4 linked regions of the Homo sapiens genome follow. The protein of the gene in region 3 binds, or shares a complex with, the protein of the main gene of each other region. Each region holds a gene or a part of one and is shown on either strand. Other genes may lie near its edges.

The links.
Region 1: SMARCB1 (region 3) and PHF10 share a complex: the UniProt entries of both Homo sapiens proteins name them as parts of the neural progenitors-specific chromatin remodeling complex.
Region 2: SMARCB1 (region 3) and ARID1B share a complex: the UniProt entries of both Homo sapiens proteins name them as parts of the neuron-specific chromatin remodeling complex.
Region 4: SMARCB1 (region 3) and DPF1 share a complex: the UniProt entries of both Homo sapiens proteins name them as parts of the neuron-specific chromatin remodeling complex.

The regions. Positions count from the first base shown.
Region 1 is NC_000006.12:169,708,447-169,716,325, forward strand, and holds part of PHF10 (PHD finger protein 10), read right to left. Parts: intron 7,643-7,879; coding exon 7,509-7,642; intron 7,412-7,508; coding exon 7,262-7,411; intron 6,397-7,261; coding exon 6,287-6,396; intron 4,094-6,286; coding exon 3,940-4,093; intron 1,946-3,939; coding exon 1,790-1,945; intron 1-1,789. UniProt on the Homo sapiens protein: Involved in transcription activity regulation by chromatin remodeling. Belongs to the neural progenitors-specific chromatin remodeling complex (npBAF complex) and is required for the proliferation of neural progenitors.
Region 2 is NC_000006.12:156,782,199-156,790,077, reverse strand, and holds part of ARID1B (AT-rich interactive domain-containing protein 1B), read right to left. Parts: intron 1-7,879. UniProt on the Homo sapiens protein: Involved in transcriptional activation and repression of select genes by chromatin remodeling (alteration of DNA-nucleosome topology).
Region 3 is NC_000022.11:23,829,632-23,837,282, reverse strand, and holds part of SMARCB1 (SWI/SNF-related matrix-associated actin-dependent regulator of chromatin subfamily B member 1), read right to left. Parts: intron 3,712-7,651; coding exon 3,580-3,711; intron 3,143-3,579; coding exon 3,103-3,142; 3' UTR 2,457-3,102; coding exon of another isoform or gene 2,304-2,456; 3' UTR 415-2,303; coding exon of another isoform or gene 321-414; 3' UTR 224-320; coding exon of another isoform or gene 129-223; 3' UTR 1-128. Other genes in the region: DERL3 (derlin-3), read left to right, coding at 129-219, 2,304-2,456.
Region 4 is NC_000019.10:38,210,816-38,218,694, forward strand, and holds the end of DPF1 (zinc finger protein neuro-d4), read right to left. Parts: intron 7,848-7,879; coding exon 7,758-7,847; intron 7,062-7,757; coding exon 6,983-7,061; intron 6,777-6,982; coding exon 6,645-6,776; intron 5,589-6,644; coding exon 5,538-5,588; intron 5,445-5,537; coding exon 5,325-5,444; intron 2,942-5,324; coding exon 2,829-2,941; intron 1,577-2,828; coding exon of another isoform or gene 1,547-1,576; coding exon 1,465-1,546; intron 1,319-1,464; coding exon 1,248-1,318; 3' UTR 191-1,247; downstream 1-190. UniProt on the Homo sapiens protein: May have an important role in developing neurons by participating in regulation of cell survival, possibly as a neurospecific transcription factor. Belongs to the neuron-specific chromatin remodeling complex (nBAF complex).

The sequences.
Region 1 (7,879 bases), on a different chromosome or scaffold from region 3:
ACCCTAATATTTAGGCACATCTTGGTTTATTAATACTTTTTATAAAGAGGTTAACTTTTAATAAGCATGTTCACATTAATGTATGATGACTAGATACTGGTTGTTCCCATCTTTGAAATACCTGAAACATTTTTAGGTACTAAAAATGTTCACAGATTATGTAAAATATAAATTTTGCATATCCTACTTGAGTACTATTAAGTTCAGTTAATCCATATGATTTCTTGTATACTAAATCAATGATAGTGTTGAATAGCTGATTTCCAGCCTGTATTAAAACATCTATTTCAATATTCTCTCTTTTTAACCCATGATCAATCAAGCTTACTGTTGCAAAGATCTACTTAGCACTCAAGAGTTAACAGGACACTGTGCTTTGAGCGGCCACTTCCATTTAAAGCTCTTAGCAGACCAGTAGAACACACTCATTCATGTATACTGCTTCTGAAATTTCATCTTTGGAGCTCACTTGCTTTCAGTTATTAAGCATTAATTTATATAAAGAAATTACATAAGCTATATATGTAAAAACAAGTACAAAAATCACATAGCTGCAGCCTATTGCAGCCACCCTTGGAAGCCAACCCTTGCTGAATTAAGCTTAAAATTTGCTTGCTATAGGCTACAAAAAAAAAAAAGAATTTTTAAGTTAATTACATAAAAGCATTTCCTAATAAAATATGAAATACACTAACTTAATGTCGCTTTTTTTACTTGAAGAAAGGTAAATGAACATGTTAGAACGTGTTCTAGTTAGTTTGAGGGAAAGGTGACTTACTTCAGCCTGTTCTTGTGAATTATTTACCACAATCACAGTTCTGACATACAAGGTGTTTAACAATTTCACTTGGCAAAACTTTCTCATCAGCTTACTCTAAAATTTTCCTTCAATACACCTTCATAAGTGCAATAAAAGCATGTTCTAATACATTTCAGACCAAAAGAATCAAAAGGTAGTCTATTTTACTACCACCATCCCAAATATGAAACTGTACAGCTAATTCTTCCTTTTATGATATTCTTAAATCCCTATATGCAAATAAGGCTACTCATCTCTCACCTCACCTTTTCTTCAGAAGAAAAGGGAGGGGCAGACAGAGGGAGGAAAAGTTCAAAATATAATAATAGTTGCTGACAACCTACTCCTTTACTCTGAGGATAATCAGATCAACAAGTTAACAAGTATGTTTTAATTCTTGCCATAGAATCATATAGGCTCTTTACCAAGGTTATGCTAAAAATCACTACAATGTAAGTAACAGGTTTTATTATTTTCTATCCCAGAGTTAGCTAAATTTAGCATATGGATCAAATAATCCTTAGATTAAACCCAGATCTTTCTTAATGAAAGGCACTAAAAAAAATGCAACTTAGTCTAACAGTATATCCACTCATACTTTATAGCTCAGCAGCTTTAGCTACACTAAATGCTGGGGCATTTAAAATGCCAAATAATTATGATCTTTACTCCAAGGAAAGAAAATATAAACTTCTGCCTATGAAATAATGTTTTAAAAACCCATACTTGCCTGGTTATTCTTTCAAAGAAAAAAAAAGACTTATAAATTGTACATATACAGAAAACAGAAGGTAAACCATAGCCAAAAGTGACAGAAAAGCCACCAAGGAAATAAAGCAAAAAAGAAAGCAGCGGACAAAGGGCACACCATAGAAGAACAGCTAGTGAGGTACAGCAGGCAGAAGCTCCACAATCGTGAAAGTCAAGTTAAAATATTTCAGGGAGAGGCTGGTCAGTAAAGAAGCTGAGTCAGGGGCTTTTTTCTTCTACCTTGTACCCAGGAACTGACTTGGACAGTACAGAACGTTTGGGACCATCTTTTCTTGGAGTGGCAGCTTTGTCTTTTGATTTCTGTCTTCCCTGGAAAGAGTCCTCCTGGCTGTCAGGAGGGCTTTCCCCTTCAGATACATTGCCAGAGGAGCTGTCCTGGAGTTTAAAAGGCAAAAACAAAGATTCTTTGGAATTAAGACAAATTTGAGTCTGGATTTTGAAAACTATGGAAAATATTCAAAGAAAGTTTTAAAGCTTTATCATTTTAAAAATAAAAAGATCATTCTAAATGTAAGAAAGCTTTTTCCAGTGGAGACTAAAGTAAGTTATGTTAAAAATCATTCCTCCTTCTTCTAAGTATATTATATAAAACTGATTCCATATCAGTGCCTTCATCAACTTTGTTTTCTGACATAAGTCACAAAAACACAATTATCCGCTTCAGCTACTATTACGGCACACAGCTTCAACATCATTTTCCGTCACAAGGGAACATATTTGTTTCATACAAAAATATATTGTTACAAATAAGTGTGGGTATTTTCACTGAGTACTAAAAGTCATTAAGAAGGTCCTTCAGGAAAAATGAAGCGCTGCAGTTAGGAAAAAAAAAAAAAAGTCCTTCAAGTACACATTTGTGTTTTCACAATGTTAAACTATGCAGAGCCAATCCCTCAACTATCTACAACAGGATCTGAAATATTTTATATATTCAAGGTTTAAGACCTCAGTATCTGATCATTTAATTCTTCATTTTATAATTTAAAATGTTCTAATTAGAACTTTCATATAAATTACAAAAATTATAAATTAAAAAATTAGGTTATCTAGAGCCTCCCTGATAAACACACACTGACTAGAAACATGAATGTATCTACTTTATCTTTTTTCTGGGTGTCCACTTATATACATAAAGATACCGAGACTCACACATTACCCCCTACCTCATTGTGCCCTCATTTTTTAAAATACAAAACTGGATTACACTGTGTGTGTATGCATATGTGTATTTTGGTATTTTTTAAAAGCATTATGTGCATTTTCTCACAATCATTAAATATTCTTTGAACTGCATTTCTATCCTATAAATGTAATATAATATTACCCACTGTGGGCATTAAAATTTATTTGTAACTTCCAGCATAAAAAATACTGTCAACACTCAAATGGACCTTTTTTTCTAATTAAAATTTTTCAGCATCTGATTAAATCCTTAGGATAAATTCTACTAGTGGATTTGCTAGGTCAAATACTATGGAACTTAAATTGGTAAGACTGTCAAAATGCTTTCCCATAATGTTGGATTAGTTTACACTTTTCCTAGCAGTATGAAAGGAAGTCAGCTTCATCACCCTTTGCATGCCATAGCTCCCCTTTTAGCAACATGACAGGAGAAAAGTTGTGTCACCACTTTAATACTTGAACAGTATCTTATTTTGCATAATATGTATTATTAAAGATGTTTTAGAAGCTGTTGGTGACAAGGAAATAATGTCCATTCAATGGTAGCACAATCTCACATTTACATTGGCTTCAATGAAAAGTTTGAAATAGCCAGTTACTTAAAACACAATGCTAAAGAAATTCAAAGCCCTATGTCATCACTGGGATCAAAGCCCCAAACCATCATTGGGATTTTATTCTCCTTCAGGTGCACAGAATACACCAACTGCCCACTGTCTTGCAGGTGCATTTTGCTACAAAAAAAAAAGTCATACAGGAAAACCCAACAAATTGTACAACATATTACTAAACATAATATTTTCCTATAGGAAGCATAAGATTAAGCAAATGCACTCCCCTCAACTAAGAAAACTACATTTCTGTGTCAAGAGATCAAATTCTGTTTTGTTCAATATTTTAAGCTAAAGAGACAGCAAGTTGAATAAATGATTGTAAGCTAATTTTCCATACCCTTGCCTAAACTGCTCATGGTAACTACAAAGGGGCGATTTTAAGCATAAAGCTTACCAAAGGCCATTCACTGCTTGTTTTTATCAAAACATACTATAAGTAACTTTTATTGATGAATACTTTCTGGAAATTACATGCAACCATCCTTTTTCAAGGAGAGGGTGATGACAGAAATTCAATGTAACAAAAATTCAAAGAGAAAGGAAATGCTTCCTACTAGAGAGAAATGTTCTCACCGAAGTGCCTTTATTTTTCCGTTTCTCATCACCTCGACCATCTTCGCCATCATCTGAATCACCATCACTGTCTAGAGCAGGGAGCTCAGGATCCAGAGGGGGCTCATACAGGGCTGTGTTTAATGGCAGATACCGCAGCTCATCTGGTGAGTACCTGAAGTTCAGAGAGTTTATTTTTGGTTTCCCTTTATTATTAAATATAAACAGACTCATCTTTGACCTATGAAGATAGCCTTAAACTTCTTGAGTAACCCCGAAGACTTTTGAAAACTAGAGTACTAATTTTTCATTTTTGTCATCAAGTAGGGTTAATAAAAAGCCTGAACATCTTTTCACTAGACTTATGTAAAATATGCATTTGATTCTTACTAAGAGATAATGTGCCTCCCCTCTTTGCCCTCAACCCAAAAAAAGAAAAAAGTAAATAAAATGTCAGCAGCCCCAAGTCTGGCTGCCAGCTCACATCCACCTCGACCACTGTCCCAGGTCTTTGCTACTTCTCTGTGCTGTCACTCCATTTGTAAAACAGACCTAATAATAGCATCTACCGCATACAGTTGATATATATGCATTAACTTATTTAATGCATACATATCACACCAGTGCATGGTACATGATATTACTTAAAATAATAACATAGAAAGCAAAATTTTTAGTAACCAATTATTGTAAACAAATTTGGGAAGCATGTATTCTAACAAATTTAATCATCTATTTTGTCTGAAACTATATTGGCAATCTCTTCCCCTAGGTCAGACAGCACTGCTTCGTGCCACCTCCATTCTCACCCTCAGTAGCCCCCATTCAGGAGGCAACCCTAGATGAAGACTTCTCCAACTAAGACAACACACCAAAAAGCAAAGGGGTTAATATACTTGCATATGACTTTTAATAATTTGCTGATGCCAAAATAAAATTTTTAAAAATTAAAGGCCGGGTGCAGTGGCTCACGCCTATAATCCCAGCATTTCGGGAGGCCAAGGTGGGCAGATCACCTGAGGTCAGGAGTTCGAGACCAGCCTGGCCAACATGGTGAAACCCCGTCTCTACTAAATATACAGAAAATTAGCTGGGCAAGGTGGCGGGCACCTGTAATCCCAGCTACTCGGGAAGCTGAAGCAGGAGAATCACTTGAACCAGGAGGCAGAGGTTGCAGTGAGCCGAGATCGCGCCACTGCACTCCAGCCTGGGCGACAGCGTGAGACTCCATCTCAAAAAAAAAAAAAAAAAATTTGAAGAAAAACTTTTAAAAAATTGCTGCTCATGATTTAAATTTGAATTTAAAAAATCTTTTTTTATTTAAAAAATTTCTGCCCAAGATTTGACTTTCAAATGGTGTGAGTTATGATACTATATTTTAAATTCTATTCTCTAAAAAATAGTATATTATGAAAAACATACGGTTCCAGAGTAAGGCTTAAGGTTGAAGTAAAAGCTGAGACTTTAAAACAAAATGGGCTGGGCACAGTGGCTCACACCTTTAATCCGAGTACTTTGGGAGGCCAAGGTGGGCGGATCACTAGGTCAAGAGATCAAGAGCATCCTGGCCAACATGGTAAAACCCACCTCTACCAAAAATACAAATAATTAGCTGGGCGTGGTGGCATGTGCCTGCAGTCCCGCTATTTGGGAGGCTGAGGCAGGAGAATCACTTGAACACAGGAGGCAGAGGTTGCAGTGAGCCGAAATCACACTACCACACTCCATCCTGGGTACAGAGCAAGACTGTCTCAAAAAAAAAAAAAAGAATCTGTTAGCCCTGTTTTTTTCAGTTACATTTAATTTGGGAATAGGAGATAAGTAACATTTAGGGTCCATATTGGAGCAGCAGCCAGGCCAGGTCAGCAATGTGGCTGGGGCACCCAGTTGCCCATGCCTGCCCCTCTCCGCTCCTTCTCTCATCTTCTCTGCAGTAAAAGTCAGTGTTTCTCAAACTCTAACCTGCACATGAATCACACAGACATCTGTTAAAATGCAGACTCTGAGTCATAGGTCTAGAGTTGGGCCTGAGATTCTGCATTTCCAACAAGCTTCTGAGCAATAACAGTGCTTTGGACCACGGAACATACCCTGAGCAGTGAGGTGCTACAGAACCCCCAGCATCTGTCTCTAACAAACCCAAACAGAATGGGCAGAGACAGAGGCATCTAGACTTCACCAGCATATATTCAAATTCTGACTACAGGGTATTGTTTACCACAGAACCAGAGAAGAATAGCAACACAAATCCTATACGATATCTTACGGTGATATCTATAGACCCCAAAATTGTTAGGAGGCAAGTACAAAAGGCTCTGAAACCCCTTACCAATAGCCGATACCAACTGTAACTAAAACTACTAAATACCTCTTATAATATTCCTGGAACTGTCCGGGGATGAGAGCCACTGGGTAAGAACTGACCTTTGTTCGCTCTGTTGGCAAAACTTTGTACTTCCCTTGAGGTACCTGGATAACCTACGTTAACATAAAGAGAAACACAAAACTGATTCCATGCTAAGAATCAAGGCTTTAGGAAGAGTCCCCACGTGCTCACCACTGCACGCCCACTTCCCCCTCGAAAAGCTAAAATTTTAGGAGATATCAGGAGCTATAACCTAAGAGGACAGTTGGTGCTTTCAGTTCTATATATTATTGTTTTAAAGGCCTATTCTCCTGAGGAATGGCAGTGGATCTCTTGCTCACTACTTAACAGCAGAGTGATCTGGGTAGCTTATACGACCTCTCTGTAGCTCAATTTCTTTATGAAATGGAAGTAATCCTAGTTCCAACCTCACATGGTTACTATGAGAATTAACATGCAAATCTCTTAAAAACTCTTGGGACGCACAGCAAGTATGATATGTAGCTATTATTAGTCTCATTTAGAATTATTAACCGTAAAGCAAAAGACATCTCACAAAAAAATGTAAATTGAGTATTATTAAGCACACCATTAAAAATAACATCTCAACTTCTGAGGAAAAAAAGAACACGCAGGTGTCAGCATGGCCAACATGGTAAAACACCATCTCTACTAAAAATACAAAAAATTAGCTGGGTGTGGTGGCAGGCGCCTGTAATCCCAGCTAATGGGGAGGCTGAGGCAGAAGCATCGCCTGAACCCGGGAGGCGGAGGTTGCAGTGAGCCGAGATCATGCCACTGCACTCCATCCTGGGCTACACAGACTCTGCCACAAAAAACAAAACAAAACAAACAAACAAACAAAAAAAACACACACACATAGGTGGTACAAAAAATAACGATAAAGGGGGTGATGGGCACTCTGCAATAACAAGTAATAAACTAAGTTCAGGGGGTACTAAATTTAAGTTATCCTACATGTGTCTGCAAGTCAAAATAAGCTCTTCTTTCTTCCATGCGTTCCCGGTTTAAGTTGCTATTAAATTCTGCTGCTTTTTTGGCAGCTTTCTTAATATACTCAGGCACTTTACTGGCTTCAACTTTCTGAGTATTCTGTTGTTGCATTTGCTGGAAAAAAAAAATACAGTTGGAAGTCACATATAACTTTCTAAAATGTCATTTTCCCCAACCCAAATAAAAAATGCCAGTCACCTCAATTACTTACGGAATACTCTTTATAATGGTCTGTAATTCGTTGACGTTCTTTTTCTTGTAGAATAACAGAATACTCAGCATGTTTGGCTGGATATTCTTTTATCATTAAATCAATCACTTCATCACTGCGCAATGCTGTTAAGCCTATTTTAGACCAAAAAATAAAAAAATAAAGAAGCTCTTTTAAGGATAAGTGAACAAAAGCACTCTTCAAAATTTAATTCTTCAAACCGCTCCACGTTGTAATGGTTTTCCAATAGCCAAAGCAAAATATCTTAGTACATTTGAAAATAATTAAACTTAATATTCACAATATAAACTCGAGCAATCAAAAGATTATCTTGCAAAAGGCAAATATATCAATTTTTCAACCAAACAAGT
Region 2 (7,879 bases), on a different chromosome or scaffold from region 3:
TTGAAAACTGCCATGGTATGGATTAGAACTAAGCTTCAAATATAAACCTATTTGCTCTGAAAGACCGATAGGCTGCTAAGTAACTTGTTAAATTAACTAATAGAGAATTGCCTCTAACTCATTTTAATTCCTTATTCATGAGAAAATACAATCCTTTGTTACTCTATTAAAAGGTCCTTTTCATTGCCAAGCAGCATACACGTTTCTTATAAAGTTTAGTCCTCATGAAAATTCCATGAGTTAAGTATCCTTTCCCATTCTTTGACAAATGAGGAAACCACACAGCACAGAGAAGCGAAGTGACTTGCCTGAGGTCACACAGCTAGTAAATGCATAATCTTCCAGTGCTCTCTAACCTGCCAGCTTTTGGCTCTAGCCCTTGCCCCAAGCCCCATGCCTCTTTACCTTCACTGTTTGTTTCTCATTAACCAAGTCTTAGCTCATCAGACCTCCTTTGCTGTAGGAGCCTTCCTGCCTCAACTCCACCCCAACCTAATCTATATAAAGTGACCCTCTAACATCAAAACTTCTTTCACAAAATCCTTTACACCTTACTGTGTAGCATGTTTACTTGTCCTTAATTCCTGCATTGTCCATTTGTGGAGGTCACCAAAGAATCCCATCACCCAGCATGATGCCTGGCACACAGTGAGCTCTTCACAAACATGTGCCTTCTGCCCACATTATTGCTGTGATGACACGAATCTATAGTTCCAAAGCCCTGACGCACACAGTTCAATACAGTGAAGTAAATGAACTGAGTATTAAATCCTTCATGTTACTGATGTGAAGGCTTTTCTTTAGCAGAAAAATCACCATATGAATGACACCCAATACAAAATCCAAATTAGGATCACTTTCTCATCAACGTCACAGCACCAAAGAACAATCTCCAAGTACACTGACCTTCCACATAGAATAGCAAATACTGACCAAACGGATTTCCTTGCAACTGATATTGGAAATGAATAATACATTCGTTAGGAAAGTTTCAGCTTGGATACATCATTTACTCCATAAATACTTCTTAGATGGTGCACTTTGAGGAATATAGTCTTTTTGCATAAGAACTACAGAAGAAAACTGTAGCCATTCACTTTAATTTCCACTTTGTAAAACACCAGGAGTCTATGATAATACACCTGGGAAAATTAAGGATCATATGTCATCTTTACTCTGTGTATCTTAAGCACCAAGTGGTGCTCAGTAAGTATTTGTTCATAATAGAATTACATTTTGTCCCTGATAGTTTTATAAATCTCAGCATTTAAAAAAAATTGCTCTTTATATATTTGAGGGAGGACCCCGGTACTCTTAGATTTGACATTCCTGTTTTGACTATTTAAGAGCAGCCCTAACCCTCCATGCATAGTAAATTATAATTTTGCTAAGGATCAAGTCTAAATCATATATTCAGTGAAGATGAAGCAAACACAGAAGCAAGTTACTTAGCTAATGAGAGACCAAAGTCTAGCACCCAAAATCTCCAAGAAGCCTACTTTTAAATTTTTGCAACTTCGTTCCTTTGCAAAAAGTAATTCTCCTAAAAAGCCAGTCATTTTTTGCAGATCATCAAAGTGGGAAGGTTTAGGAAGTATAACAGAGGAATGATTGTTGGCCAGAGAAGAGACCACTAATTAATATTAGGGATGGGATATTGAATGGGGTAGCAGCTTGGGGCCAATGGCATCAGCCGTAGGCTCTGTGGGTAAACCAAAACCAATTTATACAACTGCTGAGCAAGAGTCCCAATCAGTACAAAACCACATTCTGTAAGGGAAACTACAGTGGAATGCAAAAATCTATGTATTTGCACAGGTCTCAGTTTATATTCACAGAATATGTCTGGGATCTAGTGTGGTTTAATAAGCTGTTCAGCGGTGCATAGCTGATTAGGCACTATTTGTTTAAAAATTCAAAGCAGCACAGATTTTTGGAGCTGGGAGGGGCTGAGCATCACCTAATTGATGCCAGCAAGGGCTTGTCCTGAGTCAGCCACACCCCGAAGTACAGCAGGACCAGGCAGAGAATGAGAAAACAAGCCCCACATGGGAAGGCAGGTAGGCAGAGAAGAGAGGGGCCACATACAGATGCCACAGATAGACATCCATGACCTCAGTGAAGGTTTTCAACAACCCTGCCCAGCAGCCAACATTCCAGGTAAGGAAACTGACCCCCTGCTGGAGTGCAGAGAAAATGGGTGCTGAGGCCTCCAAATGAGCTAAGGTCTGACCAGCTCCAAGCCCATGATCTTACCATTGTGTCAGGATGCCTCATCATAGAAGCTTATTCGCTCACAAATCCTCAGAATCACCAAAATAAACTAATACACAGCAAACATGCCAGTCCCCTCGGAATTATGTCTGCTTCTTCAGAAAGATACTTGCTCAGCAGTAGCAATGTTCCACATTCCTATTTCCAAGGTCATTTATAATTCATTAGTTAGAGTGAATTTATTATAAAATATACCAGTGGTAACAGAAAATTTAAAGGGCATTAAAATGGGTGTGTAGCTTGATATATGGTCACTGAATCTTAAAAGGTGGTTCTCAAGATTTCACAAATTAGACGCCAGCTTCTAAATGAATTTTAGAATTAACAATCATTTCAATATAAGGCTATGAAATATGGTGAGTGGTTTAACTTCTAAGATGCTCATCACAAAAAGAAACAGTAGATACTAAGAATTCTGGAACTGCCTCCACTAATCATCAATGCCTCGCTTTCTGAAAGGTTTATTTCAGGACCCAGAAGCAGTAGCTGAATTTACTCCTCAGCCAGCATACATTATCTAAACAGTTACCAAAAATACCCCAGCAATCCAAGTATCTTCCTAAATCTGAACAGACTGTTTTAACTTTTTTTCCAAGAATCTATGTAATGTAGAAAACTGAGAAAAAGAAAAAGGACCATTCTATATAAATTTGAAAGTGATTATATTTTCCTTCTTTTAGTTATTATTCTCGGTAGTGAATCTATATTTCGCTCTGGCACAAAGCCAGTAACTGATTGGTAGAAATGGAAAAGAGTCACTAGATCACATCAACTATATCACAACAACCTACAATTGTTGTTGACCAGATTTTGTTTTGCCAAAATATACTGCCCCACCGGAAAAAAAAAAAAAAAAAGCAGGCCAAATAGACTGCTGACCCACATGGTTGCTATCTGCAATTTGTTTAAATGAGCCAGTTCTAAGTCAATGATGTCAGCAATACCACGATCCAGGTATGGAGGGAGCAAGCGTTAGCAGTATCTCTGCATGATCCGCACACCAACAGCAGCAATCCCCAGACCCCAGCTATTGTCTGTCTCTGGCACAGGGCTGATTAAGAAAGTGGGAGCTCAATAAATATTTGCCAATTGACTGTCTGGAGTAGATATTTATCTAACATATACCTCACTGCATACACAAATGCTAAATGTTTACACCTTAAAGAAATAACTATTGCTTCCCAGTACAAGCTCTTAAGTAACAGTTCATTTCCTCTCTGTGGAAGCTGGTGTTAAAGTACATAACTGATCTTACAAAGATGTGACTACCTATCAGCATCAGCAGCAATTCCAGTACAATTCCAATACCTTACACAAACCAAAGACGCCTGTTCATGAGACTAGGCAGGATCTAGAAGTCTCCCTTCACAGCTGCCTTTAAAATGTAATTCTAAAAGGTCAATCATCTTAATTTAGTAATTTTTCCACATACAAAGAATTTCTGAAGTTTTGCAGAGGACTAAAAAGTAAAAACATGAGGGGGAGGCACAAATTTGGTGGCAGAGAACACTATGGAAAAGGACATGGCACCACCTAGACTCTGGGTTTGCTCTGGGTTGGTAGGGGTGAGATGCCCAGAAACTTCAAACACAGAAAGAATAGAAAAAAATATCACTATAAATGATTTTCACTAATAGTGGGAAAATAAAATTAATAATTTTTAAGAGACTACAAATGCAAAAGGTGAGGGAAGAAAAGCAAGGGAAAAGTGAGAATGGTAACAGTTCATTTCCACACCCTATTATCTAACCAAGTCCCAGGTTTCTCTCAACAAATACCCTCAACCTTTAAACTTTAGAAAGGTTCCAAAAAGCTGCTTTTCAAAATTTTAATAACATAACTGGCAGTGAAACTACTAACCTTTGTAATACACATCTCCAAAGAGATCCTCAAACTCTATGAGGATTACCCCAAAGTTAGAATTGAGAGGAAGTAATGTACTAATAAAAAACAAAAACAAACAAACAAAAAAACCATTAGCATCCTGATGGAATGTCTGCGGAAGAATTTACTCACAAACTATGAAGTGATAAGATTAATGGTTACAAAAACAAGATTATTTTACTTACAATACACATTAGCAGCTAACAATTTTAAAAGAAAGAGAAAAATATTTTTATTTCAGTTTGAGAAGGAAAAGTTCTGGGGATAGATGATGATGGTGACAGCCACACAACAATGACAATGTACTTAATGCCACTGGAATGTATGCCTAAAAATGGTTCAAATGGTAAGTTGTATGTTATGTACGTATAGCTTACCTCTATTTAAAAAAAAAACCATATATTTAATTTTTTAGCATCCCATTACAAAAAAAGAAAAAATGTAGCATTATGGTCCAGGATTTCTTCTGGATTTCATCAAATATGGCTTCCCTTCCAGAGTCACCTGATAAGGAATGGCTTCTGGTCTAGTTCTCCAGCTCATCATTCATCAAGGCCCAGGAAGACACTGAGAAGTGCACCTTACAGAAGATGGTCAACAGAGGGTGAATCTCCTCCAGATTCTGCTGCCATCTACCTGATTTTAATAATGGAAATAAGAGTAGCTATTCATAAACCAGATAGGCTTAAGATTTTAGGGCTTTAGTCTGGTGCCTGGTAATAAATCTCATCCAAGAAACAAGTTAATTTCATCATTAGTTCATCTGTCAAACTCAGTAGCCTTCTAATATTCTTGGCATTGATCCATACAGATGTGGGTTTGAAAACTGCCTACTGGATCCTATTTAAGTAAGTAAATCTTGCCTGGCAGGATGGTTCACATCTGTAATCCCAGCACTTTGGGAGGCCGAGGAGGGTGGATCACTTGAGGTCAGGAGTTCGAGACCAGCCTGGGCAACATGGCGAAACCCCATCTCTACGAAAAATACAAAAATTAGCCAGGTGTGATGGCGTGCACCTGTAGTCCCAGCTGCTTGCGGGGCTGAGGCAGGAGAATCACTTGAATCTGGGAGGTCAAGGCCACAGTGAGCCAAGATCGCGCCACTGCACTCCAACCTGGGTGGCAAAGTGAGACCCTGTCTCAAAAAGAAAAACAAATAACTAAATGTAAGGAAAGAATTTTCTTAGAATTACTCCAAGTCAAAGATTTTGAAAATAGAACATATTTAGTGAAAACTTACAGTGGAAACACATATTCTACTCTGAAAAAATTCACTCACTCAAAGTGAATTGCTAATTAAAACTATATAGTATATGTCTATCATTCCATTCATTCAGATGTCAGTATAAGGAAAAACAAATGAATACTTAGGACACTCAGGTAATGACTGATACCTAAGTCATTTTATCTTTACCAAATTTCCTGAAGAAAAAGTTGCTAAAGTACACCAAGTTTTTAGATCAGAATTAATTCACTCAATTACCCAATTAAACCAAAAGGGCCATTGAGTCTCATTCAAATAGCCTCCAAGCTAGAGAAAAGATATTTATAATAGTTCTACATCTATGATACAGAAATATATTCTTGGTAGAGGAACAGTTTTGCCTGGTGCCTCTCCCGGACACGACAGGGAACAGGGTTTGGGATTCCTCAGCCTCAAGCAAGCACACACAGCAAGCGTGCGGCACTACTTTACATATCCACAGAGAACCTGCAAAAACCTCCCTCCCATTCAGGAAAGGGCACCTCCGAAAAGGCATGCAACCAAAACCACCCAATCCCAAAAAGGCCTAAGAGGTGGATACGGCCCCTTGAGTAATAACAGCAGTGTAAAATGTCATAAAAATTTTATAACATCCAACTGGAAAACCTAAATATTGCAAAAAAAAAATGGAATTAAGTTTTATTAATATTTTCAGCCTCCATAAATCTGTCATTTTATGCAACACACCACACTTCTATCAAACATAAATATCAATCTCAAATTTACAAATCTACACATACACTCCAAAACAAAAGTGACACGAGTGAAATATCAGTCCCTTTTCCACCCACATGGATCAAAGCACACAACCCCATGAGCTGAGCAGTGTCAGTCCAGTGTAGAGCTGCAAGAAAAGCCTCCAGATTGAGGACACCGGCAAAAAAGCGAATACAGAGTCCTAGGCCAGCACATCCAAAATTTACATCCCCAGTGAGTCTCCAAACGGAGTAGAAAATTTCATGGAACCCTAACAAATGTTCATCAAATCACTCATCTCCTAGGAAAGGGTAGGGTTAAATAAATGAAATGATCATCTTTTCGGTTTGCCTGTGATATTGGAATTTATCCTAGGAAAGCAAGTGTTCCTATTACATCAGAAGTCATCTTTTTAGATAGATACACCCTGCCCAGAATCATAAAGAAATAAAGTCTATTAATAAAAAATAGAACTGAAAACTCAACCGCATTCTATTACACCTATTCTCTTTAAAAGGTATCTGTGTCTAATAAAACGATCAAATGAGCTTATATTAAGTCTTCCTCTACATTGTCTTACATTTTTAAAATCAGTTCTCAAATCAGAATTAATGTTTTTTTTTTTTAAATATCAGAATAAAGACGTTATTTTCTTCAATTTCAGTAAAGGAAAATGACATTCAGAGGTTAAGTATATTAGTAAAAGTGTCCAAGTGTGATCTGCATTATTTCCACATCCATAACACACTTCTGATACACTATGACATTGAGAAAAATGGAACAAGTATAAAAAGCCTTGCCAAAAATTCATGACTAAATATAGACAAGCAGAGCCAAAGCAAAGAGGGGTTAAGGTTCCTCATTATAGATTCAAGGTAAGGATGTGCTAGTCCCTAGCATATACTTACTGATGTAGTATTAATATAAACATAAACCTAAGTGATAGCTGTCTTAAAGAGTGGCTACCACTAAAAAAAAAAAACTACCAAAATATTGTCAAAAGTATGTACCACAAAAATCAGGACTCCCAATGAAAACGATTTTAAGCCATGCATAATTTCATCCCAGATGATTCAGAAAACAAAACTGCAGACATTTGTTATATTTTCTTTTCCTGTTTTTTAAATGATAGGCCCTTTCCATTAGCCACAGTTACTAAGTCCACCTTTTCTAACTATACACAGCCATCCATACTTTGGCAAATATATAAATTTAGGCCACAAAAATTTGTTTACAAGATTTAAAATATCAGACACCCTAAAATTTAACTGGGAGTGATTTTATCAAATAATGTATCTCACACACATTTTAAGGTAATCAGGAACCAGTTTGTAGCTTCCTGCTTCGCATGCTAGCTAATCACTTTTCTTCTAATGGTAAATAAGGCCCTTTTCTTAATACATTGTACTACGTTTTATAAAACTAAAAGTTAAAACTGCATTTATGGAATTCAGTAGAAATGTGGACATCATAAAACCTATGTGCGTGAGTAGACCTCAATATTCCTTTTGAGACTGCTCCATCTGAATACTCATCTTACAAAAATCTAGTAATAAACTGAATCGTCAAATGGCTTATTTCACTTTTTAAAAAGACCCTTCTCCTATAATATATACACGTTTTGTCCCAATTACGAAAACATTTGCCACCCAATAGAAACTATTTCCTGAAATCAAAAATGAAACTAAAAACATATTAAAAGCCAAAATATTTCATCATTTAACAATGTGATTTAATAGCATTTCATGACCTACAGTCAGG
Region 3 (7,651 bases):
GCTTTGGGGCACTCATGCTGTGGGGCCTGCAGGGCCACCAGGCTGTGGATGGGGGCCTGGGGCAGGCTCTGCTGGTCTAGGACTCTGGGCTGTGGAGGGTGACCCCACAGTCCGTGGCTGTCTCACAGGGATTGCGGTGGGCCATATCTACTACTTCCTGGAGGACGTCTTCCCCAACCAGCCTGGAGGCAAGAGGCTCCTGCAGACCCCTGGCTTCCTGTGAGTGTTGAGAGCCCTCCCTCCCTCTCCCCACCCTCAGAAGGATCCCCACCGATGGGGACCTGTGCTGGCCTGTGCTCAACACGGGCCCCTCCCCACAGAAAGCTGCTCCTGGATGCCCCTGCAGAAGACCCCAATTACCTGCCCCTCCCTGAGGAACAGCCAGGACCCCATCTGCCACCCCCGCAGCAGTGACCCCCACCCAGGGCCAGGCCTAAGAGGCTTCTGGCAGCTTCCATCCTACCCATGACCCCTACTTGGGGCAGAAAAAACCCATCCTAAAGGCTGGGCCCATGCAAGGGCCCACCTGAATAAACAGAATGAGCTGCAGTCTCTTGGCCCACAGCACTGGCTTCCCCATCTCACCTGGCCACATCCTTCTATGCCTGCCCCGTCCTCACTCAGTGTGGCCTCTCAGCCCAACTGCAGGTGGTAGGATAGGGGTGCCCACAGAGGGCAAAGAAACTGCCCATGGTTGCCTGGCAGAGCTTTGAGCTCACAGGTTGCCAGGCAGAGCTTTTGAGCTCACAGGTGACAGGCTCAGGGTTCTCATCCTGGCCCCACCAGGGCCTTGGGCAAGTCCTGCCCACCATAGGCCTCTGCTACCTGCCAGTCAGCGGGGAAGTTCACCAGATTTCGGCTGCTGGGGCCAGGACAGGCGTCTCCTAGGTTGTGCCAAACCAGCCTACAGATGTTCCTGCCAGTGGTGCCTTCAGGCTGATGCCAATCTAGCCTCTCCTGTCTCTCATCAGCCACCCTGACAGGTGGGCGTATGCCTCATTTTTCATCTGGTGATGCCAAAGCCCCATGGATTCAGGTGCAGAAGAGGGCCAGGACTAGGTCTTCTGCCCTTTCTATGACCTCAGAGCCTAAGTTTTCACCTTAGCAGAGTTCTGAGACTGGGTGAGGCAGGGACTTCTGGAAGGTTCTGTTCCTGCCCTTTTTAGCTGAGGACGTGTGTGAGCCTTATCCGACCCCTGTGGCTCATTTTTCTCTTCTGACCTGGCAGCTTTCCTTGTTGTTCTAAGCCTGTCCATGTTGTGGTTTATTTCTGGATGCTCAGTGGCACGGGGCCTCCTCCAAAGACAGGTTGTCATTTTCATGGTAACAACACTGTTCTCTGTTGAGTCTGCCCTCCGTGTTGTAGCCAGACCTTGTGGAGATGGCTTTGCGGCGGTGTGAGCTGGCGGTCAGGAGTGAGGGCCCAGCCTTCCCGGCACCTCCCAGCCAGGTGGCCCTGCCCGACCTGTGGGGTGAGGCAGCCAAGGTTCCTTCCATCCCCCCAGTTGTGGAGACACAGGGCTGCCTCACCCTTTCATTGCCGAGGTTCCTACCTCATGGACAGAACAAACACCTCAGCAATGAAACCTGTTCATGTCTAAGAGCAGCTGGGCTGGGAATCTTCCCCTTTGTTCAAGGCCTTCCAGTAAGGCCCAGCTGTCCCCTTGCTGTGCATGGGGCTCTGGGGAGTTCCACTCTTTGATGGAGGGCAGAGGCCCTGAGTGCAAACTCCCTGGGAAGAGTCCCATGCTAACATGTGCTCAAAGGAGCCCTCCTCTCACATCTCAGCGACCAAGAACCCCAATCCCTAATCAGAGCTCTGCCTCTGCCCCACATGGGGCCCTACCCCACTTCCAGGGAGCACAGCAGCCTCTGACCCTAGCCCTGCCCTGGCAGCATGGGACCTGCCAACAGCTGAGGGTGGCAGCAGTCTGTGCTGGGATCTGTGCCCGGATCTGTGCCCATTCTCTTCAGTAAGGCTGGAGCTGCGAGCCAGTTTGCTGCCCTCCCAGATCCTGTGTCCATTCTGAAGAATGGGGACACCTCCCTATTACAGATGAGAACAGAGGGGACATGAACTCCTTGGAGGCAGGGCTGGGAAGGGACCCTGGGCTGTGTCTCCTCCCTGTACCGTGTCAACTCCAAGAGCTGGCACCAGGCCGGGAGGGCTATTCCCATATTCCTCACAGCTGGCTTGTAAGGCAGGAGCTGGCCCAGGCCACAGCACCTGCTGGGGTGGGAAAGGGCCCCAGCTGACCTGGCTATGGGTGCCACTGGAGCTAGAACAGCCCTCCTGCACCCAGGCTGGCGACAGCCCAGCAGTGCCCACACAGGACTGGGCCCTCCGCAGGGGACTTCAGAGCAGCAAGGCCCCAGCTGGCAGTAGCCTGACCATCTGGACACAGCAGAGCCAGGGCGGCCCAGGGACGGCAGGAGAGCTCGCGGCACCTTCCTGAGGCCAAGCAAGGGGAGCAGGGTTAGGGCTGTTCCTGAAAGGCAGAGAGCCTCTTGCCCTGAGCCTCACAGCTACTCTTCTCAGCTCTCTGGGTCTGGAAGGAGAACAGGCTGAGGGGAGCTGAGAGGAGCTGAGGTGCTACCCGGAGCCCCATTCACCCCCACCTGCCCACTTGGGAATCTGAGGCAGAGGAGGGTGAGGCCTGTGTGCCAACCTTGTTCACATACCACCTTCGTCCCCCCAGGCCCCGGCCCCACTCCTGGCTCTCATTATTTTTATGTTAAAACTTTGAAGAAATTGAACATGACCTGTTGAAGAAATTGAACATGACCTGTTGCCTTTTATTTAAAAACTGTTACTAGCCCTGCCTGGGGCTCCTATACAAAAACAAAACACAACCTAAAATAAGGTTTCTTCCTGACCCCAGAGACTGGGGAGGGGTAGGGAGGGTGGGGTGGGGGGCAGGACTGGGGCTCAACAAATGGAATGTGTGCCGGGAAGGGCCACCTGGAAGCCCCCACTCCACCCCCACCCGATCCTCAGGATGGCGCTGGGCTGTCCCCTCGCCTCTGTCCTTGCCAGAAGATGGAGGAGAGGCGGCCCAATCTTCTGAGATGCTCCGTGGGAGCCGTGTGCTGATGGGCTGGTTACCAGGCCGGGGCCGTGTTGGCAAGACGCCTCATCCGCCTGGAAGAGGAGTGGGGAGGGCAATGAGTCGGGGCCAGCTCCCAGCCTGGGCGCTGCCCTTCCCAAGGCTCTACAGGGCAGCCAAGTGTAGGGGTGGGAACAGAGGCAGGATGTGGGCCCCCAGCAGGGTCAGACCCAGCCTTCTCTCAGCCTCGCCTGTCTGCCACTCAGGCCCTGCTCATCACTCCAGGGACCCCAAAACCTGGATCTGGGCTGTGGTCAGACCCTCAGCCTGAGGAATTATGTTTGTTCCATGCAGGGAAACATACCCTGGCGTTTGGATGGGGCCTTATCACCCAGAAGCCTGCCTGCCTCTAGCAGCACTAGAGGTACTCTGTCTCAGAGACCATGGGAGACTGGGAAAGGCAATGGCCCTGCCTCTGCCTGGAAAGCCAGGTGCCTGTGGGCAGAGCCCAGGACCACAGGGCCAGGGGTACCTCGTGTTCCTGTCCTGGTCGCGGATCTTCTTCTCCATCTCAGCGTCTGTCAGAGTCTCCAGCAGTGGGCACCACTGGTCCGCATCGCCCGTGTTCCGGATGGCAATCTCCACTGTGGGCAGAGGGTTCTCGCTACGAGGAGGGGAGGCAGTGAGAGGAATGACTTTTCCAGCTATAGATGGAGAATCCTCAGAAAGCTTTGGCCCCTGTCTGTGCCCTGCTCCTCCCAGCAGCACTGCTGGCACCCAGTGGATGCTCCAGTCACCTGAACCTCAAGGGAGCTGCTGGAGGCGCCAGGGCCTTTCCATAACAAGTGTTGTCGCCATGACCCCATGGGCTTCCCTTCAAAGTGAACTTTCAACAGGGCTTTTGTGCCCAGCGTCTCTCTGTCTCTGAGATGGAGGAAGGGGCCACTGGCTGTGGAGGTGGTCCTTGACAGGACAGCACGGGCTGGACCATGCTGATGCCACAGTGCCAGTCAGGAGGTGGAACCTATAGGGGCAGGAGGACTGTCTGCTCCACTCAGTGTCCAGAGCCAGGGCCCACTGATCAGGGAAAGGGGATGGATGGCGAATGGGAGCAAAGGAGTCTCCCAGAAGTCCCCAGCCCCCCACTACTGAGGGCCACTGCACAGCCTGTTCCTGCATGTTCCACACACTTGCCCCTCAGCCCACCTCCTGGCCGAACAAAACCCCCGAGAGGCTGGTCTGTGCTTAGGATCAGACAGCTGTCTGGCAGGGAGCTGGACAGAAGCCGTATCCCCGGACCACACTCTGCCCTGGGTCTCACAAGGACCACCCAAATCTGCCCCGAGGTACCTTCCTCTTGCCAAAAGGACACAGCAGAGGAAGGGGGCAGCAAGGGCAGAGGCTAAACAGGCATGGGGTGGGCACAGGAGTGCTGGGGAGGTGGGAGGGTGGCTGGCTGCCGCCTCTCTGGGCTTTGATTTGCAAGTCTGTGACAGGACACTAAGGAGACCACAGCTGTGGATGCCACAGGGCCCGTGTGCCTCCCACATGCAGTGGTCCCGTCACCCCCACCTCTGAGAGCAGCTTTGGGTGCTGACAGTGTTTCCCAGTTGAGTGACACCAGACCCCTGGCTTGGCAGAAGGCCTCAGCCTGAGGTCCTAACCATGACTCTCCCACTTCCCCTCCCCTCTCTGTGGTCCTTTCCTTTCTCCTCCACTTGGGCACCTCCACTTGGCTCTCCCTAGGCTCAGTCCCCTGGGAGAAGGACACCCTGCCAGCCTGCGGCCCTGAAAAACACCATGAGCTCTGGGAGAAGCAAGGGCAGGCCGGACTCGGGGGAGGCGCCAGGTGGACACTGATAGAGAGGACAGGTCCCTGCAAACCTCATCTGGAATATGGAAACATTTATTGCTGTGAAGGGCTTTGGAAGGATGACTGTTATTAAAGCAGCCAAAACATCTCCACTGAGGGAGCTTCCTAGGGGCCAGGGACCTTCTCACAGCCTCCCTGTAGTGGGTGGCTCAAGGTTGTGGGACCAGCCTGCTTGCAGAGCGAGTCCCGGCTCTGCACATCCACACCAGTGAGCACACACCCAGCTCCAGTAGCCGTGAGCCCGTTCCAGGTTGGGCTCAGTGCTGCTCTCCTCAGCCTGGGGTCTCAGGGACTGTGGGCACAGCGCAGGGCACTGGCTGCAGCTGGCTCTCCCTGCAGCAGGCCTGACCCCTCACAGCTGAAGCTCAGCCCACCAGGTCCATGCTCATGAGTCGCAGAAGCTCAAGCTCGTACTGGTGACGCAGAGGCAGGGCCAGAGGCAATGTCGGCACCCCCACCCTCTGGGGCTGACCCATCCTCAGCAGCTCCTGACAGCTGGTCCCTGGCCAGCACCGGGTGGTTTAGCAGTCTAGGGACCACCCTAGCCTCAGACCCCAAACATCATTCCTCACCGTGAGGGCTCCCAGCAGCCTTCCTTGGAGGGCAGACGTGAAAGGTACCAAGCCCACAACGAGGGGAGCAAAACATGTTTTCCTCTTAAACAAGAGCTGGCGAGTGGGTCCCAGAGGGTCCTTTGTTTACCTCCCCTTGATGCTGGGAATATTCCACTCCAGTGGGTTTGTTCTAAAGTAAGAAATGCTCGCACCAACCATGTAAGAACGGGCCTAGAGCCAGCACTAGCCTGCCTTGGGTTTTGGGGGCATGTGGGCATGGAGATGCTGTCCTGAGTTCCAAAGAGTGCTGGGGACCCTGGGAGCCACCCTGCTCCCCATTCCTTCCAGGGAATTCTGGTTCACGGGCTTCGAAGCCGCCAGGGACCCCAGACCTTCCTACCACCCAAAGTGTCCAGGTGGGGACAAAGATACCCAGGCAGGGGATGCTCACGTCTGAGGGACAGAGGGAGCCAGGACTGATGCCGGTCGAGTATCTTGAGGTTTACTTTCAATGTGATCTCACTTTCATGACCTCATGTGATGCAACACACAAGTATTATCCCCAAGTTACAAATGACAAAATACAGACTTCAAGGGAAAATGACCTGTCCACAGCCACTCGACCAGGAAGGGGAGATGCCAAAACTTGGTGTCACCCTTATGTTTGCAATTCACACCTCCGAGGCCGCCAGGAGCCTCAAATGATTTTTAGAAGGGTGCCAAGTCCACTCAATGGAGGAAGAGCAGTTTTCAACATGGTGCTGGGGCAACATGACTCTGGATTGACAATGGATTCTTAGATATGAAACCAAAAGCACTAGCAACAAACTAAAACAATATATAAATTACAGGCCTGGTGCAGTGGCTCACACCTGTAATCCCAGCACTTTGGGAGGCCGAGGCGGGCGGATTATGAGGTCAAGAGATGGAGACCATCCTGGCCAACATGGTGAAACCCCGTCTCTACTAAAAACAAAAAATTAGCTGGGTGTGGTGGCAGGTGCCTGTAGTCCCAGCTACTTGGGAGGCTGAGGTAGGAGAATCACTTGAACTCAGGAGGCGGAGGATGCAGTGAGCCAAGATCACAGCACTACACTCCAGCCTGGTGACACAGCGAGACTGTCTCAAAAAAAAAAAAAAAAAAAAAAAAAAAAAAAAAGATAAATTGGACTACATCAAAATGAAAACTTTTGTGCTTCAAAGAACACTATCAAGAAAGTGAAAAGGCAATCCTCCAAATGAGAGAAAATATCTTCAAATCATGTATCTATCTGATGAGGGACTTCTATGTAGAATATATAAAGAACAATTACAACTCAACAATAAAATAAAACCCAATTAAGAAACTAGCAAAGCACTTTCTCCAAAGAAGATACACAAACAGCCAGAAATACATGCAAAGATGCTCAATATCATCAGTCATTAGAAAAATGCAAATCAAAACCACAATTACTTCACACCTCCTCAGACGGCTACGATCAAAAAGAGAACAGCAAATGCCAGCAGGATCCAGAGAAACGGGAATCGCACGCTTCTGGTGGGAATGCAAAATGGTGCAGCCACTTTGGAAAACAGTCTAGAAATTCTTCAAAATGCTAACCACTGAGTTGTCACGTGACCCAGCAATTCTACTCCTGGGTATATATCCAAGAAAATTGAAAACAGATGTTCACACAAAAACTCATACACAAATGTTCTCAGCAGCAGTACTCACAATAGCTGAAAAATGGAAACAACCCAAAAGTCAATCTGCTGATGAATGAATAAAATGTGGTATATCCATGCAATGAGATAATATTCAATCATAAAAAAGAATGAAGTCCTGATAAAAGATGCTACAACATGGATAATCCTTGAAAACATTATGCTAACAAGCCAGTCATAAAAGACCACATATTAGATGGTTCCATTTCTATGAAGTACCCGGAATAGGCAAATCTACAGATAGAAAGTGGATGAGTGGACACCTAGGGCTGAGAGACAGCGGGGAGGAACGGGACTGCCTGCAGTGGGGTGATGAAAAAGTCCTAAAATTGACAGTGGTGATAGTTACACAGCTCTCTGCATATATCAAAAACCGCTGCACTATATACTCTAAATGTGTGAATTGTATGGTTTATGAATTATATCACAATAAAGCTGTTAAAAAAACAAACAAAACCTGACATCAGGCCAGG
Region 4 (7,879 bases), on a different chromosome or scaffold from region 3:
CCCCCTTCTCCTCCTTTCTGGCAAAGCAGGGCGGAGCTGGGACAAAGCCGGGGAGAGGCAGGGTGCAGGCAGGGGAAGAAGGAGGTGGATGGAGGTAGGGGCTGGCTGGTCGCCTCACCCCCAACAAGGCCCGTCGACCCCCGGTCCTCCTTCTTGGTGATGCCCCAAACCAGACGGGAGAACGAGGCAGTCGTGGGCAGAGGGGTCAGGCCCAGTTTAATACACAGAACAAGTTAATTCACAGCAGAGGCAGGCAATAGAGGAGACTCGGTGACAAGTGAGGGGGCACTCCTGGATTAGGGGACATCCCCCCAAAACCCACCACCTCCCCCACCTGCAGTCTCAGTTTCCCTTTTTTAAAACCCGAACAACAAACACACACAACCACAAGAAACAACCACGCCCCCTCACTCCCCCAAAATGGCCAGCGAGGGGGGCGGGGGCCGCCAGGCCTGGCGGGGCGGGAGGAGGGAGAGAAAAGGAGTCCGTGGCGGAGTCTGTGCTTCTCATTCCAGCAGGCGCTGGGCGGGGGCCCACCCGGCCCCACCACCGCCACCCACCAGCCACGGCAGGCACGGGGCGGGCACAGGCTGGGGCGGTCGGGGAGGGGCAGGAACAGAGTTCAAAACCAAGGTTCACATCATGCAGTATCCACCGTGGGCACCAGGAGGGGCGGGTGGACACCACGCCCACCGCCCTGGGCACAAGAGGGGAAGGCGCCCACCTTGGGTGGGGCGCGGGACGGCTGCAGCTCCAGAAATTGGGGTTGGGGCGCCCGGCGGGGGGCCGGCAGAGGCGGGTGCCCGGTGGACACTCTCAGCAGCGCCCCTCCACCCAGCCAGGCCTTGGAGGACTCTTTGTATATATTAACTTCTTTTCTTTTCTTCTTTTTTTTTTTTTTAACTTTTTGTCTTTTTCTTTAGAAAAAGGCTCTGTCCATGCCCCTGGCTGGCACCCACCACCCCCCATGCCCGCCCAGAGGCGGGGTATGGCTTTGAGGGGAGAAGCCCCTGGTGTCCATTTGCCAAGGGACAGAGAGGGAGGGAGGGAGGGAGAGGCCCTGGCCGGGCCCACCCACCCACAGGGCAGACATTCCACTTGCACAGAGGGGAGGGGGTGGCCCAGCCCCCTCTCGGCTTCCCCCTCTCCCCCTCCCCCTGCGGGATGTTCAGGGTGGGGGAGAATTGAGGAGCTCGGAGAGGCAGGTAGGCGAGCACCACCCCAGAGTCGCGGCGAGCCGAGCCGGCCTAGGTGAGGGTGATGTAAGCAGAAGCCTTTTCCTTCAGGTGCCGGAGACAGAGGTGACAGCTCCAGCTCCCTGCGGGGGCAGCCGAAGCTGAAGTCAGGCCCGGGTCCGGGAGGGCTGCCCCAGCCCCTTCCCACCCCGAGGACACACAGTCTTCCACAACCAGGAGATGGCGTTCCCACCCACCCGCCCCATGGGATGCCCACCTCTCCTCTCACCTTCCGGGGGCTCCGCCATGGGGGGACTCAGGCAGTACATGTGGTAACCCCGATCGCAGTCATCACAAAACAGCAGCTGGTCCTGGGGGGTGAGACCCGCCCAGCTGGCACCCTGGGGGCACGGGCACCAGAAACGGGGGTGGGGGGCTGGGGCAGGGGCTAGGTCAAGGGGGCTGGGGGAGGTGAGGCCTTCCGAGAAAGGTTCTGAGAAGGTCTTTGCAGCAGGAAATGTGTGCGCAACACTGCTTAGCCAAACACATATCCCTCAGGACAGTCCCTTTGCGATTTATAGTGGGGGTTTTATAAGGCTCTGTGGAAGGCTTATTATTATTATTATTTTATATTTTTAGAGACAGGGTCCTACCCTGTTGCCCAGGCTGGAAGTGCGGTGGTGCAGTCACAGCTCACTGCAGCCTCACACTCCTTGGGGCTCAAGTGATTCTCCTGCCTCAGTCTCCTGAGCTGGGACTACAGGTGTGCGCCACCATGCACGACTTTTTTTTTTTTTTTTTTTTTTTTGAGACGGGAGTCTCACTATGTTGCCCAGGCTGGTCTGGTCTAGAACTCCTGGGCTCAAAATTCCTCAGCCTCCCAAAGTGCTGGGATTACACAGGTGGGCCACCGCTCCCGGTCTGTGGGAAGTTTAAATGACACCAAGATGATCTGATAGCAGCTCTGCCAGAAACGGTCATGGCTTTTGTTTTTGTTTGTTTTTTTTTTTTTTGAGACGGAATCTCGCTCTGTCACCCAGGCTGGAGTGTGCAGTGGCGCCATCTCGGCTCACTGCAATCTCCACCTCCTGGGCTCAAGCCATTCTCCTGCCTCAGCCTCCCGAGTAGCTGGGATTACAGGCACCCAGCTAATTTCTGTATTTTTGTAGAGATGGGGTTTCACCACGTTGGCCAGGCTGGTCTCAAACTCCTGATCTCAGGTGGTCCACCCACCTCAGCCTCCCAGAGTGCTGGGATTCCAGGCGTGAGCCACCGCGCTCCGCCTGTGGAAGGCTTTAAACAACCCTAAGATGATCTGATACCAGCTCTGCCAGCAGTGGTCATGGCTTTAAATCTCAGCTCTGCCATTTCCCTAGCTGGCTGACCCTGGGCAGGTCTCTTTCCCTCTCTGAGCTCAGTTTCTTCCCTGTGAAGTGGAAACAAGACCACCTGCTTCAGAGGGTGGTTGGGAGGATCCAGAGAGATGAAGAGGAAAAAGGGCCAGGTTCGATTTATGGACACCGGCATAATGATAACACAGGGGACTGGTGTTCACCAGGGAAGGCTCAGGCACAGGCTTTAGGCTTAAGGGGCAGAGGTGGACGTGCCAGGCGGGGCGGGCAGCAGGGCACGCGGGGGGCGGGCGGCACTCACGTCGTTCTCGGAGGTTCCGCACAGGCTGCAGGATTTGCACTCGATGCACTGCCAGCGGTAGGTCCGCACGGCTGCCGTCATGTTCACCGTGAATTGTAAACACGAGGGGTGTCCTGGGGGCCAAGGGGCAGGGGTGCAGTTAGGAGGTCACCGTGCCCCTGGTGGGCACTGACCGGCAGGGGAGCCATAGCTCAGCCCCTACCCCTGGCTCATGACGCCAGGATGAGCTGCCGGGATCCACAGCCTGACCCCACACCTGCCCAGCAACCACGTGGCCGGCAGCAGTCCCCCGGCCACCACAGTCTCCTACCACAACCACCATGGCAACCACACTCTGCTCCCCAGAACGCCATGGCAACCGCATTCCATTACCCACAGTGCTGTGCCAACCACTTTCTACCACCCACAACACCGTGGCAACCACATTCTGTTAACCACCGTGCTGAGACAGCCACTTTCCATTACCCACAGCAGAACGGCCAGGGGTCCTGTTAACCACAGCAACGTGGCAACCACACTCTCCCAGCCACAATGCCATGGCAACCACCTTCCACAACGGGGTCCCCACACTTCGGTTTCATGCAACTGAAGTCCATTCCACTTGGTGCCCCAGCAACAAAACTGTTACTCACATCACAGCACTGTGCAGCGCCAGGCTTAGTCATTCCACAGCCCCGCTGCAGAGACACCCGCAGCCGCTACCTGCAGCCACGACCCATGGCGCCCGCCCCCTGCAACCACGGCCCCGGTGCCATCACAACTACATTCCATTATACTGAGTTGCCATGACAACCATATTTCACTACCCATGATGCCACGACAACCACAATTCATGACCTACTGTGCTGAGGCAACCAGAGTCTATATTGCCCACAAGCCCACCATGGGAAACCACATTCTGTTAACCACAACTCTATGGCGAGCTCATCCTGCTACCGGTGCCCAGGTGGTGGTGTCCGTCACTCACACCACACAGCCCACTACCTGCCATGCCTTGGCCCCTGTCTCTTGCTACTCCTTTTGTCTTGTTTTGGTTTTTGAAACAAGGTCTCACTCTGTTGCCCAGGCTGCAGCATAGTGGCACCATCACAGTGCACTCTGCAGCCTTGACCTCCCAGGCTCCAGCGATCCTCCCACCTCAGCCTCCCGAGTAGCTGGGACTAATGGGGTGCGAAACTATGCCCAGCCTTTTTTTTTTTTTTTTTTTTTTGAGACGGAGTCTTGCTCTGATACCCAGGGTGGAGTGCAGTGGTGCAATCTTGGCTCATGGCAACCTCTGAGCCCCGGGTTCAAGCGATTCTCCTGCCTCAGCCTCCGGAGTAGCTGGAACTACAGGCACGCACCACCACACCCAGCTAAATTTTGTATTTTTATAGAGATGGGGTTTCACCATGTTGGCCAGGATGGTCTTGATCTCTTGACCTCATGATCTGCTCGCCCCAGCCTCCCAAAGTGCTGGGATTACAGATGTGAGCCACATCACCCAGCCTGGCCTATTTTTTTTTTAATAGATGGGCTCTCATTATGTTGCCCTGGCTAGTCAAAAACTCCCAGATTCAAGGGGCTGGGTGCTGCGGTGGCTCACGCCTGTAATCCCAGCACTTTGGGAGGTCAAGGCAGGCAGATCACCTGAGGTCAGGAGTTTGAGACCAGCCTGGCCAACATGGTGAAACCCCCGTCTCTACTAAAAATATTAAAAATTAGCCAGGCATGGTGGCGGGTGCCTGTAATCCTAGCTACTCGGGAGGCTGAAGCACAAGAATCACTTGAACCCAGGAGGCGGAGGTTGCAGTGAGCCAAGATCATGCCAATGCACTCCAGCCTGGGTGACAGAGGGAGACTCTGTCTCAAAAAACAAAACAAAACAAAACAAAACAAAAACCTTCTGGGCTCAAGCGAGCCTCCCACTTCAGCCTCCCGAGTAGCTGGGGCTAATGGGGTGCAACACCATGCCCAGCTAACTTTTTTTATATATAGATGGGATCTCACTATGTTGCCCAGGCTGGTCTCAAACTCCTGGGCTCAAGGGAGCCTCCGGCCTCAGCCTCCTGAGTTGCTGGGATTACAGGTGCACAACAACACACCTGGATAATTTTTAAATTTTTTGTAGAGATGGGGGTCTTGCTATGTTGCTCAGGCTGGTCTCAAATTCCTGGCCTCAAGTGATCCTCCCACCTCTGCCTCCCAAAGTGCTGGGATTACAGGCGTGAGCCACCACACCTGGCCTCTCACTACTCTTGATGCCATGCTAAGCACAGGCAGCTACCCACAGTGCCATGAGAGCCACATCCCATTATCCCTAAAGCCTCACTGATCCGACCCAATTCCCACAATCCTCAGCAGTTGCATCAGCCTCGCTAGCTCTGGTTATCCACAGTATCCCCTACATGCTCCGGGTCCCCTCGGTCCTCACCGCCTTGCCTCCCTCCCTCCAGGTCTGCACTCCTGAATGTCCTCTGCACCCGGCCCCCAGAAACCTCAGGTGGGGAGCATCACCTGATCGCCCACAGTCCGCACAGGAGATGAGGTCCTCGGGACACCCCGTCTTCTTGGAGCCCCCCAGGCAGAAGTCACAGTAGCCGTTGGGGATGACAGTGCCGTCGGGCGCCTTCTTGGCTGCAAGACAGCAGACAGGCATTGGCACGGGGCAGGCAAGGGCACCCCGCAAAGGTGGCTGCAGACTTTAGGAGCAGAAGGAGGCATCCGTACCTGTGTGTTTCCTTTGTGCCTCAGGGACCCAGGCCAATTCTTTGTAAAACTCTGGGGTAGGGGGGACAGAGAGAGGGACTCTCACCACAGGCAAGGCTCCACCCTGCCCCCAGCCTCAGCCCCAAGGATGGACCTCTTAGTCCAGGCGTGGGGAGCTGGGAAGAGTGAGTAGCTACCCCAAGCTGTGGGGAGAGGTGAAAACAGTTCTCATCGGGACTCCCAACTCTGCCTTTTTAAATTTTTTTTTCAATTAAAAATAAAGGCAGGGTCTTGGTATGTTGCCCAGGCTGGTCTCCAACTCCTGGCCTCCAGTGATCCTCCCACCTCGGCCACTGCCACAAAGTGGCGGGATTATAAGCGTGAGCCACTGCACCCAGCCAGGATTCCCAACTCCTTGAGACAACTGACATGTCCTCTTTATTGGGTCAAAACTTGGTAGACAGCTTGAGGAAGGGCTCCCTGCCTCCCTTCTCACATACATGTCTCCCAGCCAGCCACTCCCAACTGCACCCTCAGTAATTTGTATCTAACAAATTCAGCGAGTACCCCAGCCAAGATCTGGTATGGAAACAGACACTCGGAAGAAAAACTCCGAACACTGAGGTGCGTGGGTGTGTAGTGGCCAGGGGTGAAGACACTCAGCCTCTGCCTCTGAGAGATAGGTGGGAAGACAGTGTCTCCCTACTGCCTCTCCCAAACCCTCCTCCCCTCCCCCATCCTTCAGCTGTCAGAACTGGCATGGGATTGGCAAGGGCGGAAGCCAAGGGCTCCCAGGCCACAGACCCTGCCCCTTGACCAAAGCTTAGCAGAGAAAGGAGAAAGGGAAGGCAGGGCGGGAGGGGAGCCATCTATCACCCCCCCTCCCCAAGCTCTAATTGAAACAATAAATCAGACCCAGAAATATTACGCCCGGCCAGGAGCGAAGGAGCGATGGTTGGTTGCCATGGCAACCCCGGAGCCAGCATCCCCATGGTCGGTGGGGGGAGGGAACGGCTGAGCTGGAGATTTTCCAGAAATGTCTAATGCCCCCCCACCCCCACCCCCAGCTGGGCTCCTCTTCCCCACTCCCAGGGCCCCTGGCCACCCCCACCTGGCCTGCCAGCTCACGTTTATGGTTGTTTTTCCGGTGGAAGGGCAGGGCGTGGCGTTCGGCGTTCTCCTCCCCCTCCTCCTCGGCCAGGTGGGTGTGGGTGTAGTGGTAGCTGAGCCCCGGCCGGTTCTTATACCGTTTCCCACAGACTGGGGAGCGAGCGAGCCAGGAGGGCCTGTCAGCCCCTCCGGGCCCCTGCCGCCTCCACCCTGGCCTCCAGGATCACACCTCCCCCCTCAGCCAGAGACCTGAGCAGCCTCCCAACCCGGGTCTGGAACGGGAGGGAGAGGGCCACGAGGTGGGGAGTCTCTGGGCACCCCTCTCTCTGCCTTTCCCCCTCTTCAGAAGGACTCACTATCACAGACATACGGCTTGTCTCGGTCCTCCAGGGAAGCGGTGTCCTGGCGTTTCCGGAGACCCCCGATGCCATATGCCTGTGGGGAGAGTCAGGAGTGAGGGGCCAAGAAAGTGAGAAAACAGGCCAGGCGTGGTGGCTCACACCTGTAATCCCAGCACTTTGGGAGGCCGAGGCAGGCGGATCACGAGGTCAAGAGATCGAGACCACCTTGGCCAACATGGTGAAGCCCCGTCTCTACTAAAAATAGAAAAATTAGCTGGGCATGGTGGCGCGTGCCTGTAGTCCCAGCTACTCGGGAGGCTGAGGCAGGAGAATCGCTTGAACCCGGGAGGCGGAGGTTGCAGTGAGCAGATATTGCGCCACTGCACTCTAGCCTGTGACAGAGCGAGACTCCGTCTCAAAAAAAAGAAAAAAAAGAAAAAAGAAAGTGAGAAAACAGTGTCTTTTGCAAATTCAAATTGCAGCTGTACAAATGTCCTAGCTGTGGGGCCTTGAACCTCTCCAAGGTTCAGCTTCTTCCTCTGTGGCATGGGGATGAAGGTAGCTCTAACCCACTGCATAATCTCTGCTTTGCAAATGGCTTAATACAGATGAGCCTCAGTTTCCTCATCTGTAAAATGGGTATAAAATCCCCCACCCCTGCAGGCCGCTCTGGGGATTCAATGAGGTCAGACTGAGGTCAGACTGTGGCAGGGGCGGACCACTGCACCTGCTCCATGAATGAGACCTGTCATTGAGGGGAGCGGGGAAGAGGAGAAGCTTGGGGTGATACCTTTCCTTTGGCCCTGTTCTTCCTCCTGGGAATGTCATCCTCCAAGTCTTCCACCTCGAGGTCATGCGGAAACTCCAGCAACTGCTGTTTCTGGGCAATAGAGAAAGGAGACGGGTCAAGAA